2 separate regions of the Homo sapiens genome follow, and region 2 is linked to region 1. The links come from fine-mapping of genetic effects on gene expression. Tissue or cell type: blood mononuclear cells. Region 1 holds a variant in brackets; the other region holds the start of a gene. All regions are shown on one strand. Distances are from middle to middle.

The links. PIP is the estimated chance that this variant, and not a neighbour inherited with it, causes the effect.
Region 2: PTPRH starts here. The variant in region 1 is the best candidate, but not a certain one, in a credible set for the expression of PTPRH in blood mononuclear cells (TOPMed, PIP 0.72).

Annotation. Positions count from the first base shown.
Region 1 is chr19:55,157,322-55,159,821 of GRCh38, forward strand. TNNI3 (troponin I3, cardiac type) reads right to left here and starts at 411. Exons shown (of 8, transcript NM_000363.5): 1 at 258-411. The coding sequence starts at 268. DNAAF3 (dynein axonemal assembly factor 3) reads right to left here. Exons shown (of 12, transcript NM_001256715.2): 11 at 2,212-2,286; 12 at 1,344-2,128. The coding sequence ends at 1,741. It overlaps DNAAF3-AS1 (DNAAF3 antisense RNA 1), which reads left to right and starts at 1,988. Exons shown (of 4, transcript XR_007067345.1): 1 at 1,988-2,124. RefSeq lists an enhancer at 1-189. The variant C/G (reference allele first, on the strand shown) is at 1,183.
Region 2 is chr19:55,208,030-55,211,029 of GRCh38, forward strand. PTPRH (protein tyrosine phosphatase receptor type H) reads right to left here and starts at 1,472. Exons shown (of 20, transcript NM_002842.5): 1 at 1,354-1,472. The coding sequence starts at 1,404.

The DNA of each region.
Region 1 (2,500 bases):
AACCAAGGAGGGGGGTTAGTGGTGGGCTGTGTCCTGTCTCCTAAGGGACCCCTGGAGTCCCCTCTGAACAAGAGGTCGGGGGACCGCGCTTCCCCTTCCTTGGGTTCCAGGAGTCTGACTCGCAAACCCACTTCCTCTCTTCACCCAAGAGTCCCTACGCCTACCTCGCAGGCCAAGGGTCCAGCCTCTCAGCTGCGACCCCTCTTGGGAACCCGGGAGGTCGCCCCCAACTCCCACTGCCTTGGGGCATCACTCACCCATCCGCCATGCTGAGACTCAGGCCGGGAATGGCAGGAGGCAGGGCGAGGACAGGGGCGTTTGGAGGGTCAGTGAGGGGGCCGCCCGGGTGACCTTCAGGGTCCCAGGGACCGTCAGTCTCCTCCGGGCTGCTTGAGACTCCCCGAGGACACTGAGATAAAGGGCGAGGACACAGACTAAATATACTGTCACCTCCTCCTCCCCCTGCCCACTATGCCAGATAACGGGGGCGCGTGAGGGGCGGGGTGGGCCCTGCTCCAGCTGGATCACCAGCCACCTCCGGGCACAGGAATCCGGACCCTCCTCCCTCTGATCCTGGAGTCCTAGACCCCTCCTCCCTCAGACCCAGAGAATGCCCGACCTCCCAACCTCCTCCTCCCTCAGTCCCAGGACCCTGGGAGACCCTGGCCACTCCCTCACACAAGGAGTCCAGGCCCCCAGCCCCCTTTTCCCTCAGACTCAAGTGTCTGGGCCCCCAGCTCCTCTTCCCTCAGACCCAAGAGTCCAGGCCCCCAGCCCCTCCTCCCTCAGACCCAAGAGTCCAGGCCCCCAGCTCCTCTTCCCTCAGACCCAAGAGTCCAGGCCCCAGCCCCTCCTCCCTCAGACCCAAGAGTCCAGGCCCCAGCCCCTCCTCCCTCAGACCCAGGAGTCCAGGCCCCCAGCCCCTCCTCCCTCAGACCCAGGGGTCCAGGCCCCCAGCCCCTCCCTCAGACAAGGGAGTCCAGGCAGGCCCCCAGCACACTTCCTCTCTCAGACTCAAGAGTCTGCACCCTCAGCTCCTCCTCCCTCAGACCAGGAGTCCAGGACCCCAATCCCTCTCCCCTCAGACCGAGGAGTCCAGGACCCCAATCCCTCTCCCCTCAGACCCAGGAGTCCAGGCCACTCAATAAATGTTGTTGATTAATTTGAGGATGCAGCTGTGCT[C/G]GGGGCTAGCTCTCAGTCAATAGCACTGGGAAATCCATCCCTCGTCCACTTGGAAACCCAGGAATCTGGTTTCTGGCTTCCTCTGTCCAGCACTCCTGGGCCTTTCTCTCCCAGCCCTGGAGACGGACATAGGACAGGAAAGACGCTTGGACACACAGAAGGGTGGACACAACTTGCTTTACTTGAACCATCTGGGTGCTGACCAGGCCCTGGTGAGGAGACACCCCAGCCCCTAGTCAGCCACAGGGTGCCTGGGAACAAGGGGGCCAAAGTCAAGGGCCTGAGACTCAGTGTCAGATCCTAGGCTGGGCTTAGAGCCTCAGAAGTGGAATTTGGAATTCTGAGAGAACAATCTAGAATTCTAGGAATAGACCATAGAATCTCAGAAATGGAATTTGAAAGTCTACCAACACTCCCGGGGTGGGGGTGGCGGGTACTGAGTGGGAATGATTAGAATAAAATTGAGGACTCTAGCAGCGGACTTAGAATGGTATCAGCGGGTTCTCATCCTACAACCTGACTTTGGAAGTTGGAGATAAGGGGTGTCTAGGGGTTGGGTCAGACTCCAGTTTTGGAGTCTGACTCACAGTTGGGCGGAGCCAAGGCCCCCTGAGGCTGAGCCAGAACCTCTGAGAGTGAACCTGGAGACTCAGAGGGCAGCTGGCAGGGCTCACAGTGTGGGGTCCCACCCTGCAGAGGCTGGGTCAGGCCCTCAAGGGCTGGGTTGCTGGCTTCAAGAGGCTGGGCCAGGATGTCAAGGGGCGGAGTTCCGGGTTCCACAGCTGGGACAGTGTTGCCCAGAGCTGATTCCTGGGACTTGCAGAAACGTGCGAAGGTCTCTGAAGGCCTGGCCCCGGTCTGTGGAGCAAATCCAGCTGCCTGAGCTAGCTCCCTGACCCGGGTGTTGAATCCCTGCAGCTGCTCCTGCCGCACGTCCACCAGGTACCTGCAGATGGGAAGCGCCCTGTCAGGGACCCAGATTTTGATCCCCAGCCAGGATGTTCCCCACCCTCCACCCCACTGACTCACCGGGCTAATTCCACAATCAAGTTCCCTCCGGGTGCCACACAGGCCCCAAGCTCAGGGATGAGAAGATGGACCATACTGCAGAGAGGACGGAGGACAGGCTGAGATTCAGCTCCAAATCCGGAGGGAGGATGGGGCTCTGGGATCCCAGACAATGAGGGAGGAGGGGTGGCAAAACTGGAGTCTGGGTCCTGGGGAAAGAAGGGAGCAGGAGGTCTGGACTCCTGGGTCTGAGGGAGGAGGGGCTGGGGGCCTGGACCCCTGGGTCTAAGCAAGGAGGGGCTGGGGGCCT
Region 2 (3,000 bases), 51 kb after region 1:
CTGGTTTGAGGGAGGAGAGGTTGGGGGCCTGGACTCCTGAGTCTGAGGGAGGAGGGGCTGGGGTCTGGACTCCTGGGTCTGAGGGAGGAGGGCCTGGGGGCCTGGGGGCCTGGGTCTGAGGGAGGAGGGGCTGGGGGTCTCGACCTCTGGTTTGAGGGAGGAGAGGTTGGGGGCCTGGACTCCTGAGTCTGAGGGAGGAGGGGCTGGGGTCTGGACTCCTGGGTCTGAGGGAGGAGGGGCTGGGGGTCTGGATTCCTGGGTCTGAGGGAGGAGGGGCTGGGGGTCTGGACTCCTGGGTCTGAGGGAGGAGGGGCTGGGGGTCTCGACCTCTGGTTTGAGGGAGGAGAGGTTGGGGGCCTGGACTCCTGAGTCTGAGGGAGGAGGGGCTGGGGTCTGGACTCCTGGGTCTGAGGGAGGAGGGGCTGGGGGTCTGGACTCCTGGGCCTGAAGGAGGAGGGACTGGGGGTCTGGACCCCTGAGTCTGAGGGAAGAGGGGCTGGGGGTCTGGACTCCTGAGTCTGAGGGAGGAGGGGTTGGGGGCCTGGACTCTTGGTTTGAGGGAGGAAGGGCTGGGGGCCTGGACTCCCGGGTCTGAGGGAGGAGGGGCTGGGGTCTGGACTCCTGGGTCTGAGGGAGGAGGGGCTGGGGGCCTGGACTCCTGAGTCTGAGGGAGGAGGGGCTGGGGTCTGGACTCCTGGGTCTGAGGGAGGAGGGGCTGGGGGTCTGGACTCCTGGGCCTGAAGGAGGAGGGACTGGGGGTCTGGACCCCTGAGTCTGAGGGAAGAGGGGCTGGGGGTCTGGACTCCTGAGTCTGAGGGAGGAGGGGTTGGGGGCCTGGACTCTTGGTTTGAGGGAGGAAGGGCTGGGGGCCTGGACTCCCGGGTCTGAGGGAGGAGGGGCTGGGGTCTGGACTCCTGGGTCTGAGGGAGGAGGGGCTGGGGGCCTGGACTCCTGGGTCTGAGGGAGGAGGGGCTGGGGTCTGGACTCTTGGTTTGAGGGAGGAGGGGCTGCTTCCTGTCCGTGAGCACAGCTGTGTGTTGCCTGAAGCCAGTGTCCCCCGCAGCAGACACGACAGTGTCTAAGGGCCCGGGTGAAGCTGGTGTCCCCCACAACAGACACGACAATGTCTAAGGGCCCGGGTGAAGCTGGTGTCCCCCGCAGCAGACACGACAGTATCTAAGAGCCCAGGTGTAAGACTCTCCTACAGTCTCTGCCAAGCCTGAAGCCCTCTTCCTTCTCCAGGGGATCTTCAGCACCTACTTCCTCAAGATCGAGGTGCAGGCACCCAGCTCCTTCTCCCTCAGACCTGGGAGTCCCTGCCTTGGGAGCCCGCTCTGGGCGGGGAGCACTTACCAGCAGCACCAGGTTCCCCCAGACCCCGAGGCCCCCGCCAGCCCCAGCCATGCCTCCAGACACTGCCGGGGACCCAGGAGTCCCAGGCCTAGTCCTTCCACCTGCTGGACTTTACACTCAAGAATTTCCCCTTTACCAGATCATTGGTGAAGCCAGAGGCCAGGGCGGGAAGGGGAGGAGGAGGAAGTGGAACCCAGCTCCCAACCCTGCCCCGCTGGCCCTCACCTTCCTCCCTCACCGCTGCCTCTAGCTCTGACACTGGAGATGCCTCCCATCCTTTCTCCAGCCCCCAGCCCACTCCACTTTGTCCCCCGAAATCTCCCTCTGCACCCCAGGTACCGGGTGCCGCGCCCCACTGCTGCACGGATGCGGGACGTGGGGCAGAGGATGAGAGCAGGGGGTGCTGAGAGAAAGGCCAGCTGACTCCCTCGCCTCCCTGGTGGGTGATCACACATCAAGAGCAGCCTGGGGCTTAGACCTCATGCCCCTCGTCCCTGGAGCACGCTCTTCCATTCAGCCTCTGACGCCTTTCCCCTCTCCGTCTCCCACAAGCCCCTGCAGCTCTCACAAAATGAGCCCAGCGGGCTCCTGCCTCTTGGCCTTTGCCTAGACTGTCTCCCCCACCAGATGCACCTGCCTACTTTCCCCCTAACAGTCTCCTACCCACTGCTCCATTAGGATTCAGCTTGGAAATGACCCATGCCGGGCCTGGGGCCTTTCTAGCCTGGTCAGGACCCTGTGCACTGTCTTCCACACCCCAGACTCTCTAATTTGCATATCCATCTGTGACCCTGAGCAAATGACTTAAATCCACAGTGACTCAGATTCCTCATCTCTAAAGAATGGGCACCCTTGTAAATATGCTAAGAGAAATAGATGAGTTACTACGTGGAAAGTCTTGGAACAATGCCTGGCCCATTTTAAACAGTTGATAAATATTAGTCATGTTTATTTTTAGTTCATCCCTAGGCCACCTGTGCTCAGAAGGGGCCTGACACCCAGGGCTTTTCAAGGTGTTTTTGTTGACTTACTATGTGCACACGTGGACTGCCTTCATCTCACATATAGTGCGGAAATGAAGAATAGAAACCCCAGCCGGGCATATTGGTGTGTGCCCAGCTACTCAGGAGGCTGAAGTGGGAGGATCACTTGAGCCCAGGAGTTTGAGACCAGCCCGGGCAATATACAAAACCCCATCTTTACAAAGAAAAACAAAAAGAGAGAAAAAATTACCCAGGCATGGTAGTGCACGCCTGTAGTCCCAGCTACCGGGAGGCTGAGGTGGGAGGATCACCTGAGACTGGGAAGTCAAGGCTGCAGTAAGCTGCGATTGTGCCACTGCACTCCAGCCTGGGTGACAGAGTGAGCCCCTGTCTCAGAAAGCAAAACAATGGCCAGGCGCGGTGGCTCACACCTGTAATCCCAGCAATTTGGGAGGCCGAGGTGGGCAGATCACCTGAGATCAGGAGTTCGAGACCAGCCTGGCTAAGATGGTGAAACCCCATCTCTACTAAAATGCAAAAATTAGCTGGCTGTGGTGGCAGGCACCTGTACTCCCAGCTACTCAGGAGGCTGAGGCAGGAGAATGGTGTGAACCTGGGAGGCGGAGCTTGCAGTGAGTCAAGATAGCGCCACTGCACTCCAGCC